2 separate regions of the Homo sapiens genome follow, and region 1 is linked to region 2. A link means that fine-mapping ties the variant in region 2 to the expression of a gene that starts in the linked region. Tissue or cell type: whole blood. Region 2 holds a variant in brackets; the other region holds the start of a gene. All regions are shown on one strand. Distances are between the middles of the regions.

The links. PIP is the estimated chance that this variant, and not a neighbour inherited with it, causes the effect.
Region 1: ICAM1 starts here. The variant in region 2 is fine-mapped to the expression of ICAM1 in whole blood (TOPMed, PIP above 0.99).

The regions. Positions count from the first base shown.
Region 1 is chr19:10,266,348-10,274,347 of GRCh38, forward strand. It overlaps ICAM1 (intercellular adhesion molecule 1), which reads left to right and starts at 4,773. Exons shown (of 7, transcript NM_000201.3): 1 at 4,773-4,879. The coding sequence starts at 4,813. LIMASI (lncRNA inflammatory and mucous response associated, antisense to ICAM1) reads right to left here. Exons shown (of 4, transcript XR_007067138.1): 2 at 343-447. RefSeq lists a silencer at 1,686-1,980 and enhancers at 4,335-4,424, 5,335-5,574.
Region 2 is chr19:10,241,725-10,249,724 of GRCh38, forward strand. No RefSeq gene overlaps it. Among named protein-coding and RNA genes, the nearest start is that of MRPL4, 6.5 kb to the right of the region's middle. RefSeq lists an enhancer at 888-967. The variant G/A (reference allele first, on the strand shown) is at 4,833.

The DNA of each region.
Region 1 (8,000 bases), 25 kb after region 2:
GCGCCCACCACCACTCCCGGCTAATTTTTGTATTTTTAGTAGAGATGGGGTTTCACTGTGTTAGCCAGGATAGTCTCGATCTCCTGACCTCGTGATCCGCCTGCCTCGGCCTCCCAAAGTGCTGGGATTACTTATTTTGTTTTTTGTAGAGACAGGTTCTCACTGTGTTGCCCAGGCTGGTCTTGAACTCCTGATCTCAAGTGATCTTCCCACCTCAGTCTCTCAAAGGGCTGGGATTACAGGGGTGAGCCACTGCACCCCACCTTCCCTCTACTTTTTGACGGTTTCCTTCTGCTATGAATGTGCATGTCCAGTTGTCTGCTTCTTAGAACTGATATTTACCTTCCTCATCCATCAGCCATTGGAGGAGGACTGGGACCGCTCAGATTATTGATCTGACCCATTCTTTCGGCAGGGTTTCCTGGTGGCTGTCTTCCATCACCAAAACTGGAATCAGAAGAGTTTCCATAGCCCTTTTTTTTTCCCCACATCTTTGCTGAAGCAGAGTTTTGAAAAACAAAACCACAAACTAAGCTATTCCCCAGAAGAAATCTGTAATCAAAGATAAGCTCTGCCGGGCACAGTGGCTCACGCCTTTTGGAGGCCAAGGCGGGCGGATCACCTGAGGTCAGGAGTTCTAGACCTGCCAGGCCAACATGGTAAAACCTCATCTCTACTAAAAATACAAAAATTAGCTAGATGTGGTGGTGGGTACCTGTAGTCTCAGCTACCTGGGAGGCTGAGGCAAGAGAATCGCTTGAACCTGGGAAGTAGAGGTTGCAGTGAGCCGAGATTGCACCACTGCACTCCAGCCTGGGCGACGGAGTGAGACGACCTCACAAAAATTTACATAAATAAAATGAAAAGTAAAATAAAAATACAAAAGTTGGCCGGGTGCGTTTGCTCACGCCTGTAATCCCAGCACTTTGGGAGGGTGAGGCAGGCAGATAATGAGGTAAGAAGATCGAGACCATCCTGGCTAACACGGTGAAACCCTGTCTCTACTAAAAATACAAAAAATTAGCTGTGCGTGGTGACACGCACCTGTAGTCCCAGCTATTTGGGAGGCTGAGGCAGGAGAATCACTTGAACCTGGGAGGTGGAGGTTGCAGTGAGCCGAGATCGCACCACTGCACTCCAGCCTGGGCCACAGAGTGAGACTCCATCTTGAAAAAAAAAAAAAATACAAAAGTTAGCCAGGGGTGTTGGTGGGTGCCTGTAATCCCAGCTATTTGGGAGGCTAAGGCAGAAGAATTTCTTGAACCTAGGAAACGGAGGTTGCAGTGAGCCGAGATCACACCTCTGTACTCCAGCCTGGACAACAGAGCGAGACTTTGTCTCAAAAAAAAAAAAAAAAAAAAAACTAAATAGGCCGGGAGCAGTGGCTCATGCCTATAATCCCAGCCCTTTGGGAGGCCAAGGCAGGTGGATCACTTGAGGTCAGGAGTTTGAGACCAGGCTGGCCAACATGGTGTAACCCCGTCTCTACTAAAAACACAAAAATTAGCCGGGTCTGGTGGCGTATGTCTGTAATCCCAGCTACTCGGGAGGCTGAGGCAGGAGAATCACTTAAACCTGGGAGGCAGGGGTTGCAGTGAGCTGAGATCGTGCCACTGCACTCTAGCCAGGGTGACAGAGTGAAACTCTGTCTCAAAAAATTAAAAAAGAAATTCAGCAAGTAATGAGTTAAGGAATTCGAATATTAAGGCGAGTGACAAGGAACGCCCAGGATGTGGCCCAGGATGGAGTAGGGGGGACACTCATTTAGGAGAAAGCTCAGGCCACAAGACAGGAGGAGCCAGCCTTGTTGGGGTTGAAGGGAAGAGCATTCCAGGCTGAGGGAACTGCAAGGCGTTTGCATGGGACACTATGGGATGGCTTCTGCCCTTGGTGGGCAGCCTCTGGTCTGAGGCCATTCTTTGGCCTGCCTGACTGTCTGGCAACCGGGAGGAAGCCCTGCCCTTCCTGGAGACAGAAACAAAGGTCTAGGAAATATCTGCTTCCCTTTTCCTTGAAAAACGCTTAAGGGAACGGAGGACTGGGAGGTGCCGTCTCTCTCTGCCAGCCTGCCCCCTACCATAGCCATCCCACTCCCATCTCAGAAAGTGACCCGCCATCCTCCAAAAGGCTCGGACCCTGATCAAGGAGTCATCCCCCTTGTCCCAGCACCTCCAGTTGGCCCAGCCTCCAAAACGGATGTCAAATTCAGCCCTTTCTCCAAGGACACTGCCCAGTCCAGGCCCCACTATCATTCATCTGGACTAGAACAGTCACCTCCTCTCCCATCTCCTGGCTGCAGCTCTTGAAGCCTCAACTGGGCCCCTGTGAACACTTGAGTTAGGGCAAGGTCCTTCCTCTGCTCAGAACCCTCTATACCTCCCACCTCGCTGGGCATAAAAGCCAAAGTCCTGGCCAGGCACGGTGGCTCACATCTGTTATCCCAGCACTTTGGGAGGCCAAGGGGGGCGGATCACTAGAGGTCAGGAGTTAGAGACCAACATGGTGAAACCCCATCTCTACTAAAAATACAAAAATTAGCTAGGCGTGGTGACGCACCCCTGTAGTACCAGCTACTCGGTAGGCTGAGGTGGGAGAATCGCTTGAACCTGGGAGGCAGAGTTTGCAGTGAGCCGAGATCACACCACTGTGCTCCAGCCTGGGTGACAGAACGAGACTGGGGTTCAGAAACAAACAAACAAAACAACAAAGTCCTCCTCAGGTGACAGGAACTTGCACCTATCTGCCCTGTCATCTCCCTGCCCGCTCCTCTCCTCGAATCTCTCCTTTGCTAAGCCTGCTCCAGCCACACTGTTCTCCTGGCTGTTCCTTTTTTTTTTTTTTTTTTTTTTTTTTTGAGTCTCACTCTCACCCAGGCTGGAGTGCAGTGCCTCTATCTTGGCTCACTGCAACCTCCGCCTGCCGGGTTCAAGAGATTCTCCTGCATCAGCCTCCCAAGTAGGTGGAATTACAGGTGTGCACCACCACACCCGGCTAATTTTTGTATTTTGCATAGAGATGGGGGTCTCCCTATGTTGCCCAGGCTGGTCTTGAACTCCTGGGCTCAAGTGATCCTCCCATCTCGGCCTCCCAAAATGCTGGGATTACAGGTGGGAGCCGCGCCCAGGTGGATTTTTGTCTGACTCTGTTCATTCCTGTGTCCCCAGTACCTGGAAGGACGCCAAGCACACAGTAGGCGCTTAAAAAACATTGAGCCACATGTTGAGAAAAGAACGGCACCATTGTGGCTGCAAGTGGGACTTGGGCCGCGCGGGGGAGCTCGCGCACCTCGGGCCGGGGCAAGAGCTCAGTGGAACCCGCCCGAGGAAGAACCCGTGGCGCAGGATTTTCCCAGGCCTTCTGAGGACCAGGGGCGTCCCCCGTCCCACCCTGTGACTTTGCTCAGGCCGTTCCGGGGCGGGAATTCAGAACTCCTCAGCCCCCCAAGAAAAAAATATCCCCGTGGAAATTCCTTGGGAATGACCGAGGCGGGGGAAATATGCGTCTCTGGATGGCCAGTGACTCGCAGCCCCCTTCCCCGATAGGAAGGGCCTGCGCGTCCGGGGACCCTTCGCTTCCCCTTCTGCTGCGCGACCTCCCTGGCCCCTCGGAGATCTCCATGGCGACGCCGCGCGCGCCCCACAACAGGAAAGCCTTAGGCGGCGCGGCTTGGTGCTCGGAGACTTAAGAGTACCCAGCCTCGACGTGGTGGATGTCGAGTCTTGGGGTCACACGCACAGGCGGTGGCCAAGCAAACACCCGCTCATATTTAGTGCATGAGCCTGGGTTCGAGTTGCCGGAGCCTCGCGCGTAGGGCAGGGGTTCGAGCGCCCCTTCTCCCTGCCTCGCCTCTGCGCCTGGGGGCTGCTGCCTCAGTTTCCCAGCGACAGGCAGGGATTTCGAGCGTCCCCCTCCCCTCCCTCGTCAAGATCCAAGCTAGCTGCCTCAGTTTCCCCGCGGAGCCTGGGACGCCAGCGGAGGGGCTCGGCGCGTAGGGATCACGCAGCTTCCTTCCTTTTTCTGGGAGCTGTAAAGACGCCTCCGCGGCCAAGGCCGAAAGGGGAAGCGAGGAGGCCGCCGGGGTGAGTGCCCTCGGGTGTAGAGAGAGGACGCCGATTTCCCCGGACGTGGTGAGACCGCGCTTCGTCACTCCCACGGTTAGCGGTCGCCGGGAGGTGCCTGGCTCTGCTCTGGCCGCTTCTCGAGAAATGCCCGTGTCAGCTAGGTGTGGACGTGACCTAGGGGGAGGGGCATCCCTCAGTGGAGGGAGCCCGGGGAGGATTCCTGGGCCCCCACCCAGGCAGGGGGCTCATCCACTCGATTAAAGAGGCCTGCGTAAGCTGGAGAGGGAGGACTTGAGTTCGGACCCCCTCGCAGCCTGGAGTCTCAGTTTACCGCTTTGTGAAATGGACACAATAACAGTCTCCACTCTCCGGGGAAGTTGGCAGTATTTAAAAGTACTTAATAAACCGCTTAGCGCGGTGTAGACCGTGATTCAAGCTTAGCCTGGCCGGGAAACGGGAGGCGTGGAGGCCGGGAGCAGCCCCCGGGGTCATCGCCCTGCCACCGCCGCCCGATTGCTTTAGCTTGGAAATTCCGGAGCTGAAGCGGCCAGCGAGGGAGGATGACCCTCTCGGCCCGGGCACCCTGTCAGTCCGGAAATAACTGCAGCATTTGTTCCGGAGGGGAAGGCGCGAGGTTTCCGGGAAAGCAGCACCGCCCCTTGGCCCCCAGGTGGCTAGCGCTATAAAGGATCACGCGCCCCAGTCGACGCTGAGCTCCTCTGCTACTCAGAGTTGCAACCTCAGCCTCGCTATGGCTCCCAGCAGCCCCCGGCCCGCGCTGCCCGCACTCCTGGTCCTGCTCGGGGCTCTGTTCCCAGGTGAGTCGGGGTGGGGATTGCCGTCGGGCCAGTTCTCCGAAGCCCCGGGAGGACCGGCTCCCGGGTCAGGTCATGCATGCTTAGGTAGCTGTTTATGGGAAGGAGGGGCTAGAGACAGCGATTGAAAGGCAACAGCCAGTAGGTTCGAATCCAGACCCTGCATACCTCCACGTGTGGCCTTGGGCTATAGATTGCAGCTTTAAAAAAGGGTAGGGGGTTGGAGATGGAGGGGAGGGGCGGGCCTCGTTTTGTTGCCCAGGCCGGTCTTGAACTCCGGGGGTCTAGCCTTACCTCCTGCCTCAGCCTCCCGAGTAGCTGGGATGAGAGGTGTGAACCACCGCCTTGCTTGGCTAGATTGCGTCTCTTACAGTTTCTCAGCTGTAAAACGGGAAACGTTATAGCGGCCACCTGGCAGGGTATCTTGGCCCAGCGCAGCACCTGGCCCCAGGACTCGATCATGATGGTTTGGGAACTTGGCTCTGTGCCAACCCAACAAGGCTTAAGGGACCCCCACCCCCCTCAAGATGTATATTCTGTTCCTCATCCTCTCTGCCCCTGGGGAAGTCCAGGGCTGCTTCTACTTGGGGGAATTCCAGAGCTGACTTATCCGTGGCCCAAAGCTGAGAAGTGGGACGCCCCAGCACACCCTCCCCCAGCTCCAGCCCAGCTAGGGAAGAGGGAAGGGGTCAGAGGGTCTTTCATGGTGGTGTAAGTTTGGGGAACCAGGAGGGTGGGAGATTGACAGCTTGGTTAACAGCTCAACAAAGCCTGAGATCCAGGCCAGCACGGTAGTTCATGCCAGTAATCCCAACACTTTAGGAGCCCCAGGCGGGCGAATCACTTAAGGTCAGGAGTTTGAGACCAGCCTGGCCAACATGGCAACATCCCGTCTCTACTAAAAATACAAAAATTAGCTGGCATGGTGGTGGGCGCCTGTGATCCCAGCTGCTCGGGAGGCTGAGGGAGGAAAATCCCTTAAGCCCACGAGGCTGAGGTTGCAGTGAACCAAGATTGTGCCACTGCACTCCAGCCTGGGAGACATAGCGAGATTCTGTCTCAAAAAACAAAGCGTTCTGATCCGGACTCAGACCCAGATCGCACTGCTTTCTAGCTGAGTAACCATTTCTCTCTATGAAATGGGAATGGTCCCAGAATCTCCCTTGGAGAATGTATGGAGCCAGTGTCCTCACACCCCCATCCAAGATAGAACAAATCTGAGACAGGAATCTTTGAGTGAGGCAGTGCTGGGCTCAGACATTTTTTCCCACCTTCGGAGGCAGCAGAATCTGAGGGACCTGATCCAAATAAGCCCCTTCTTTCTTTCTTTTCTTTTCTTTTTTTTTTTTTTTTTTTTTTGAGACGGAGTCTCACTCTGTCGCCCAGGCTGGAGTGCAGTGGCGTGATCTCGGCTCACTGCAACCTCTGCCTCCCAGGTTCAAACGATTCTCCTGCCTCAGCCTCCCTGAGTAGCTGGGACTACAGGCATGTGCCATCACACCCGGCTAATCACTGTGTTAGCCAGGATGGTCTCGATTTCCTGACCTCATGATCTGCCCACCCTGCCTCCCAAAGTGCTGGGATTACATGCGTGAGCCACAGTGCCCACCCCGTAAGCCCCTTCTTTCTTACCTGCAAGGTAGCCAGTTGCTACCCATCCTGTGCTGAGTTACTTGTATTAGCAAGGGATGGGGTGGCTATACTCACCCACCTTACAGATGGGGAAATTGAGGCCCAAAGAGGGGGAAACTACGTGTCTCAGGGAGTGAGGAGCCAGTCTGATTCCTGGAGGGCTGACTGTCTCCACCTGACTTCTTAGGAGGGAGGAGGGCACCAACTTCACATTAAAATCTGGTTGGACACAGTGGCTCACACCTGTAATCCTGGCATTTTGGGAGGCTTAGGCGGGAGGATCACTTGAGGCCAGGAGTTTGAGACCAGCCTTAGCAACATAGTGAGACCCCATCTCTACAAAAATGTTTTTCAGGGCCAGGCGCGGTGGCTCACACCTATAATCCCAGCACTTTGGGAGGCTGAGGCGGGCGGATTACCTGAGGTCAGGAGTTTGAGACCAGCCTGACCAACATGGAGAAACCCCGTCTCTACTAAAAGTACAAAATTACCCGGGCGTGGTGGCGCATGCCTGTAATCCCAGCTACTCGGGAGGCTGAGGCAGGAGAATCGCTTGAACCTGGGAGGCGGAGGTTGCGGTGAACTGAGATCGTGCCATTGCACTCCAGCCTGGGCAACAAGAGCTAAACTCCGTCTCAAAAAAAAAAAAATGTTTTTCAAATATTAGCCGGGTATGGTGGTGTCCTGTAGTCCCAGCTACTTGGGAGGCTGAGATGGGAGGATCACTTGAGCCCAGGAGTTCAAGGTTACAGTGAGCTATGATTGTGCCACTGTATTCCAGCCTGGGTAACAGAGGGAGACCCGTTTAAAAAAAAAAAAGTGATGGCTAAAGTCCTTCCATGGCTCCCTATTGCCCTCAGTATAAAGAACACATGTGGCTGGGCGTGGTGGTTCACGCCTGTAATCCCAGCACTTTGGGAGGCTGAGGCGGGCGGATCACTTGAGGCCAGGAGTTTGAGAGCAGGCTGGCCGACGTGGCGAAACCCCGTCTCTATTAAAAATACAAAAATTAGCTGGGCGTGGTGGTGCTTGCCTGTAATCCCAGATACTCTGGAGGCTGAGGCAGGAGAATCACTTGAACCCGGGAGGCAAAGGTTGCAGTGAGCTGAGATTGCGCCACTGCACTCCAGTCTGAGTGACAAAGCGAGACTCCATCTCAAAAAAAAAAAAAATAAAAGAACACATCTTTAGCATGGCCTTCAGTGCTCACGGGATCTTCCTGAATTAATCTCCCCCTCTTCATCCTTGCTCACTCAGCTCCAGCCACCCTGCCCCGGGACATCTGTACTTGCCTGGAACTTATTTCCCTTTTCTCCGGACAGCCAGCCCTTTCTCGTCATTTAGATCTCTGCTGAAACATTACCCTGTCACCAAAGCACTGTCTATTCTATCACCCTGTTTTGTTTTTGTCAAAGCTCATATTAACATCAGTTATTAATTATCTTGTTTGCTCATAATTTTTTTTTTTTTTTTTTTGGAGACAGAGTCTCGT
Region 2 (8,000 bases):
TGAGGCAGGAGGATCACTTGAGCCCAGGAGTTGGACTCCGGCCTGGGCAACATAGCCAAACCTCATCTCTTAAAAAATATAATAAAAATAAAGGATATGGCAGACCATGTAAAAAATTTAAATAGAAATTACCATATAGGAAGATGATATCTAATGGGAGGTGCTACCAGAGGCATATGGGGAGAAATATCTTGGGCTGGGTGCAGTGGTTCATGACTGTAATCCCAGCACTTTGAGAGGCCAAGGTGGGAGGATCACTTGAAGCCAGGGGTTTGAGACCAGCCTGGGTAATATAGGAGACCCCCATCTCTATTTTAAAAATCTTTAAAAAAAAAATCCATGTATGGTTGCACGCACCTGTGGTTCCAGCTACTCAGGAGGTTGAGGCAGAAGGATCACGTCAGCCCAGGAGGTCGAGGCTGCAGTGAGCTATGATTGTGCCACTGCACTACAGCCTGGGTGACAGAGTAAGACCCTATCCCTAGAAAAAAAGCAAAAAGAGGCCGGGTGCGGTGACTCACGCTTGTAATCCCAGCACTTTGGGCGGCTGAGGCAGGTGAATCACCTGAGGTCAGGAGTTCAAGACCAGTCTGACCAACATGGTGAAACCCCGTCTCTACTAAAAATACCAAATTAGCCGGGCATGGTGGTGCGTGCCTGTAATCCCAGCTACTTGGGAGGCTGAGGCGGGAGAATCACTTGAACCCAGGAGGTGGAGGTTGCAGTGAGCTGAGATCGTGCCATTGCACTCCAGCCTGGGCGACAAGAGCGAAACTCCGTCTCAAAAAAGAAAAGAAGAGAAAAGAAATATCTTGGCTTCTCCTACCTTCCTCTCGGAAAATCTGCCCCCAGTGCCTCCCATTGGCTAAATGTGGCCAGAAGCCAGTTGGCAGGGGAGATGTCCCGTGCAGAGGTCAGCCCCGAGCCATGCAGGGAGAACAGCACAGGGACTAGATGATGCCAGGGCTCGCAGGCTTAAGCCCTGCAAGAACCATGTGGGTAGGGGCAACTATACCCCCATTTTACAGAGGAGGAAACTGAGGCCTGGAGAGCCAATGTGACATGCCCAGGGTCTCAGGCCCTCAAGGAGGTTGGACTCTCTGGTTCTCGCCAACACCTGCCTGGAGGGCTAGTTCTGTGGCTTTTTTTCTACCCTTCACGCCTGTCCTGGTTGCTCAGGGAACTGTAGGGAATGAAAATATCCATGCAAATCAGCCCCACTGCGGGGAGGCCCTCCGTGGGAGGCTTTGCCCCCTCACGGAGCTTGGCAGTTACACACAAGCTGAGCTGAAAACAAACAAACAGCAGATGTTTGGACAGTTGATGGGGGAGGGGCGCTTTAGGCAGCTCTCCCTAGTATAGGAGACCACCCCTCACCCCCCACCAACAGATCTGTGTCATCCATCCATGCCCTGTACTTTTTTTTTTTTTTTTTTTGAGATGGAGTCTTGCTCTGTCACCCAGGCTGAAGTGCAGTGGCGCAATCTTGGCTCACTGCAACCTCTGCCTCCCGGGCTCAAGCAATTCTCGTCACTCAGCCTCCTGAGTAGCTGGAATTACAGGCGCCCGCCACCATGCCGGGCTAATTTTTGTATTTTTAGTAGAGACGGGGTTTCATCATGTTGGTCAGGTTGGTCTCAAACTCCTGACCTTAAATGATCCACCCTCCTCGGCTTCCCAAAGTGCTGATTACAGGCGTGAGCCATTACACCCAGCCAATCCCATTTTAAAGATGAAGAAAATTGACTGGGTGAGGTGGCTCAAGCCTGTAATCCCTACATTTTGGGAGGCTGAGTTGGGCGGATCACTTTAGCCACCGACCTCATGCTCTGTACCTTCTTTTTGGGGGGCTGCCCCCCAGTATTGCAGGCCTGACCCCTGGCCTTTGTGAGAACCCTTGTTCAGTAATGGAGGAAAAGCTGAGGCCAGATGTTGAGGGGCCTTCCCGCATCTGATATGTGCCCCCTAAATTGGTGTGATACCCACAGCCAGCAAAGACCCTCTCTGGATTACAGGGTTGATGCTGGTCCCACACTACCAAGGACAGAGGTCACCTGCAATTGAGCCTTTGATCCACAGGAGAGGGCTGGTTGCATTGGCCTTTGACCTCTCCCCAGGCTTGGCTCAAAATGGTCAAACTTTGAGCCTTTTGGTGTGAAGGTCCCCTGGTCGTTACTGCCCTTTTATTAAGACTCATAACTGGGGGCCGGACGCGGTGGCTCACGCTTGTAATCCCAGCACTTTGGGAGGCCAAGGCGGGCAGATCACTTGAGGCCAGGTGTTTGAGACCAGCCTGGACAACATGGTGAAACCGTGTCTCTACTAAAAATACAAAAAGGCAGGGTGCAGTGGCTCACGCCTGTAATCTCAGCACTTTGGGAGGCTGAGGCAGGCGGATCACGAGGTCAAGAGATCGATACCATCCTGGCCAACATGGTGAAACCTCGTCTCTACTAAAAATACGAAAATTAGCTGGGCGTGGTGGCGTGTGTCTGTAGTCCCAGCTGCTCAGGAGACTGAGGTAGGAGAATCACTTGAACCCAGGAGGCGGAGGTTGCAGTGAGCAGAGATCATGCCATTGCACTCCAGCCTGGACAACAAGAGTGAAACTCCGTCTCAAAAAAAAAAAAAAAGACTCATAATCAATATGCCAGTTGGGGAATGCTGTGTAAACTGGGGTAGGGACCAGGTGCAGTGGCTCATGCCTGTAATTCCAGCACTTTGGGAAGCCGAGGCTGGAGGACAGCTTGAGGCCAGGAATTTGAGACCAGCCTGGCCAGCACAGTGGGTCTCTGTCTCTACCAAAAATAAAACAAGTCAGCCCAGTGTGGTGGCATGTGCCTGTAGTCCCAGCTACTCAGGAGGCTGAGTGTGAGGATGGCTTGAGCCCAGGAGGTAAAGCTTGCAATGACCTATGATCCTGCCACTGCACTCCAGCCTGGGCGACAGACGGAGACTCTGCCTCTAAAAGATAAAAAATAAAAGCTGGAGTAGGAAGGGAAGGATAAGTTTAGATGCATTGTCACCTAAGAAGGTGGCATTTCAGTAAAGAGCCAAAGGAGATGAAAGAGTGAGACATACAGATATTCAGGGGAGGCTGGGCATGGTGTCTGAAGCTTGTAATCCCAGAATTTTGAGAGGCTAAAGTGGTGAATCACTAGAGGCCAGGAGTTGGAGACCAGCCTGGGCAGCATAGTGAGACTCCATCATGTTTTGTTTTGTTTTGTTTTGTTTTGTTCTGTTTTATTTGAGACAGTGTCTCACTGTCACCCAGGCTGGAATGCAGTGGCATAATCACAGCTCACTACAACCTCCGCCTCCCAGGTTCAAACAATTCTCCTGCCTCAGCCTCCCAAGTAGCTGGGATTATAGGCGCCTGCCACCACACCTGGCTAATTTTTGTATTTTTAGAGAGACAAGGTTTCACCACGTTGGCCAGGCTGGCCTCGAACTCCTGACCTCAAGTCATCTGCCCACCTCGGCCTCTCTAAGTGCTGGGATTACAGGTGTGAGCCACCACGCCTGGCCCTCAGCATGTTTTTTAAAAGAATAAAATAATAAAAGAAACAAAAATAGATATTAACGGGGAAATGGAATGTGATTGGTGGGTTCTGGGTTCTGGTGAGGAGGCCAGGGCGGCTAAAGCCATGGAGGAAGGGGAACAGGAGAATGGAAGGTTAGGGCAGGTCCTGCGGGGACTTGAGGGTTGCATGAGGACTTTGGTTTTAGTGCTAAGTGAAATGAAGGCACTGAGGGTTCTAAGCAGAAGAGGGAAGTGACCTGACTCAGATGTTTACAGCCTACCTCTAGGGGATGGGTAACAGATGATGAGGAGTGAGGGTGGAAGGAAGAATTCATTCTCAACACAGCCCCGTAGGGGAGGGTTTGTGTGTATTTCACTTACAGATTAGGAGGCCACAGCTCCCACTTGCCCAAGGCCATCCAGCCAATTAGTGGCAGTGCCTGGATTCAAACCAGTGTTACTGAATGAATAATCATGTATGGGCACCTTACGTGCCCAGTGACCTCAGGTGGACAGAGATTTGAGACCCAGGGACATAGGGAGAAAGTCCTCTGTTGTTAGCAATACCCCTGCAACAGGATGAACAAAGGAATTCACTCAGGAAACATTTATTAGCTGGGTGTGGTGGTGCATGCCTGTGGTCCCAGCTACTCGGGAGGCTGAGGCAGGAGGATTACTTGAGCCCGGGAGTTGCAGGCTGCAGTGAACTATGATCATGCCACTGCACTCCAGCCTAAGTGACAGAGTGAGACTCTGTCTCTAAAAAGAAAAACAAAAGAACTAAAGAAACATTTATTGAGCATGTACTGTGGTCCAGACACTATGCTGAGTGCTGAAGCTACAGCAGGTAATAGGATAGAGGAAAATTCCAGCCTTGGGTGAGTTTACATTCTAATGGGAGAGGCAGACAAAAAGCATTTTTAGCCAGGTGCAGTGGCTCACGCCTGTAATCCCAGCACTTTGGGAGGCCGAGGTGGGCAGATCACAAGGTCAGGAGTTTGAGACCAGCCTGGCCAACATGGTGAAACCCCATCTCTATTCAAAATACAAAAAAATTAGCCGAGTGTGGTGGCAGGCGCCTGTAATCCCAGCTACTTGGGAGGCTAAGGCAGGAGAATCGCTTGAACCTGGGAGATGGAGGTTGCAGTAAGCTGAGACTGTGCCATTGCACTCTAGCCTGGGCAACAAGAGCAAAACTCTGTCTCAAAAAAAAAAAAAAAAGAAGAAGAAGAAGATAACCATTAGGCCAGATGTGGTGGCTAACATCTGTAATCCCAGCACTTTGGGAGGCTAAGGCAGGAGAACTGCT[G/A]GAGCCGAGGAGTCTAAGACTAGCCTGGGCAATGTGGTGAGACCTCGTGTCTACAAATATATATATATTTTTAAATAGCCAGGTGTGGTAGCACACACGTGTAGTCCCAGCTACTCAAAAGACCAAGGTGGGAGGATCACTTGAGCCCCAGAGACAGAGGTTGCAGTGAACCAAGATCTCGACATTGCACTCCAGCCTGGGTGGCAGAGTGGAACACTGTCTCAAAAAAAAGAAGATAAATATTAATATAGGGCAAGAGAAGAGGGTCAGAAAGGTCAGAGGTGAAGATTTGCTTTTTTATTTTTTTGAGACAAAGTCTCGATCTGTCACCTGGGCTGGAGTGCAGTGGCGCAATCTCAGCTCACTGCAACCTCCGCCTCCCGGGTTCAAGTGATCCTCCCATCTTAGCCTCCTGAGAAGCTGGGACTACAGTCGCACACCAGCACAGAGGTTTCAGTGAGCTGAAATCACACCACTGCACTCCAGCCTGGGTGACAGAGTGAGACCCTGTCTCAAACAACAACAACAAAAACAAAGGAAGCATGCAGTGGGTAGTCCGAAAGGTTCAGCCACCTCTGCCCCCTGTCAGTCTTTCCTCACTCCTGGCCTCTGCGACTGCTGTTCTCTCAACCTGAAACAGACTTTCTCCTCTGGACAAAGTCCTCAAGCCTTAGCTCTCAGGCTACAGCTTCATAAGACCACCCCAAGACCCTGCCCCCGTGGTTGGGAATTCCTCCTGTGGACGCCCACAGACCCTGTAGACTCCCCTCCTGAACTCTGATCCTTCAGGCCTCTGCATTGGACTGTGAATATTTCAAAAGTGTTTGCTGGATTTACTGGTGTACCAGTGGTGCACAGTAGGTGCCTAATAAATCACTAAGAAACTAAGCCAGGCGGCCTAGTGTGGTGGCTCACGCCTGTAATCCCAGCACTTTGGGAGGCTGAGGCAGGCGGATCATTTGAGGTCAGGAGTTCGAGACCAGCCTGGCCAATATGGCAAAACCCCATCTCTACTAAAAATACAAAAATTAGCTGGGCGTGGTGGTGTCTGCCTGTAATCCCAGCTACTCAGGAGGTTGAGGCAGGAGAATTACTTGAACCCAGGAGGTGGAGGAGGTTACAGTGAGCCGGGATCGCACCACTGCATTCTAGCCTGGGTGACAGAATGAGACTGTGTCTCAAAAAAAAAAAAAAAAAACAAAAGGCACAGGGCATGGATGGATGATACAGATCTGTTGTGGGGGATGAGGGGTGGAATCACAAGGTCAGGAGTTTGAGACCATCCTGGCTAACATGGTGAAACCGTCTCTACTAAAAATACAAAAATTAGCCAGGCGTGGTGGCGGGCACCTGTAGTCCCAGCTACTCAGGAGGCTGAGGTGGGAGAATGGCGTGAACCTGGGAGGCGGAGCTTGCAGTGAGCCAAGATCACGCCACTGCACTCCAGCCTGGGCGACAGAGCGAGACTCCGTCTCAAAAAAAAAAAAAAAAAAAAAAAAGCCAGGCGAGGTGACTCACACCCATAATCGCAGCACTTTGGGAGGCCAAGGCGGGCAGATCGCTTGAGCCCAGAAGTTTGAGATCTGCCTGGGCAACACGGCGAGACCCTGTCTCTATGAAACAAGAAAAAAGAAAGAAACGAAATACTGTTCCATCATTTGCCACATAAAATCTAAACTCTCTGGTGCAGAACAGACTTGCAAATCTGCCTGTAAAATCATACACCGGATTTTGGAGTAGACACACAGGAGGCTGATTGTAGTGGTGGCTTCTGGGAGAAGAACTGGGGGGTAGGGGGCACAGATAAGAGTAGACAGAATTTTCACTCTAGTAATCTTTGTAATTTTTGAAATTCTCTCTACCAGGTGTATGAATGACCAATGAAAATATACAATAGGCCAGGCGCAGTGGCTCACGCCTATAATCCCAGCACTTTGGGAGGCTGAGGCGGGTGGATCACATGAGGTCAGGAGTCCGAGGCCAGCCTGACCAACATGGTGAAACCTTGTCTCTACGAAAAATACAAACATTAGTCAGGTAGGGAGCATCACTTGAGAACAGGAGTTCAAGACCAGCCTGGACAACAAAGCAAGACCTCTGCCTCTACAAAAAAAAAAAAAAAAAAAAAAAATTGCTGGGCATGGTGGAACATGCCTGTGGCCTCAGCTACTTAGGTGGCTGCAGCAGAGGATCATCTGAGGCCAGGAATTCAAGACTACAGTGAACTATAATCGTTACACTGCACTACAGACTGGTAACAGGGTGAGATCCTGTCTCAAAAACAACAGCAACAAAATAAACGATTAAAAGACCTTTTAAAGTTGCAAAATACATAGAGTCTTAAACATGCATCCACAGTTATTTATTTATTTATTTAGAAACGGAGTTTCACTCTTGTTGCCCAGGCTGGAGTGCAATGGTGCGGTATCAGCTCACTGCAACCTCCGCCTCCCAAGTTAAAGGAATTCTGCCTCAGCCTTCCAAGTAGCTGGAATTACAGGCATGCGCCACCATGCTCGGCTAATTTTGTATTTTTAGTAAAGATGGGGTTTTGGCATATTGGCCAGGATGGTTTCGAACCCCTGACCTCAGGTGATCCACCCGCCTCGGACTCCCAAAGTGCTAGGATTATAGGCATGAGCCACCACGCCCGGCCGCATTCAGTTATTCTTGCAGGGATAAAATACACAATGAAATACACTATACTTTTTGTTTTCTTTCTTTCTTTTTTTTTTTTTTTTTTGAGACAGAGTCTCACTCGTCGCATGGGCTGGAGTGCGGTGCGGGATCTCGGCTCACTGCAACCTCTGCCTCCTGGGTTGAAGCGATTCTCCTGCGTCAGCCTCCCGAGTAGCTGGGATTACAGGTGCCCGCCACTACGCCCAGCTAATTTTTTTGTATTTTTAGTAGAGATAAGGTTTCACCATGTTGGCCAGGCTGGTCTCGAACTCCTGACTCGTGATTCGCCCACCTTGGCCTCCCAAAGTGCTGGGATTACAGGCGTGAGCCACCGCACCCGGCCACATTTTTTTTTTTTTTTTTTTGAGACAGGATCTTAGTCTGTCACCCAGGCTGGAGTACAGTGGCATGAACATGGCTCACTGCAGCCTCAATCTCTTGGGTTCAGGTGATCCTTCTGCCTTAGCCTCCCCATTAGCTGGGACCACA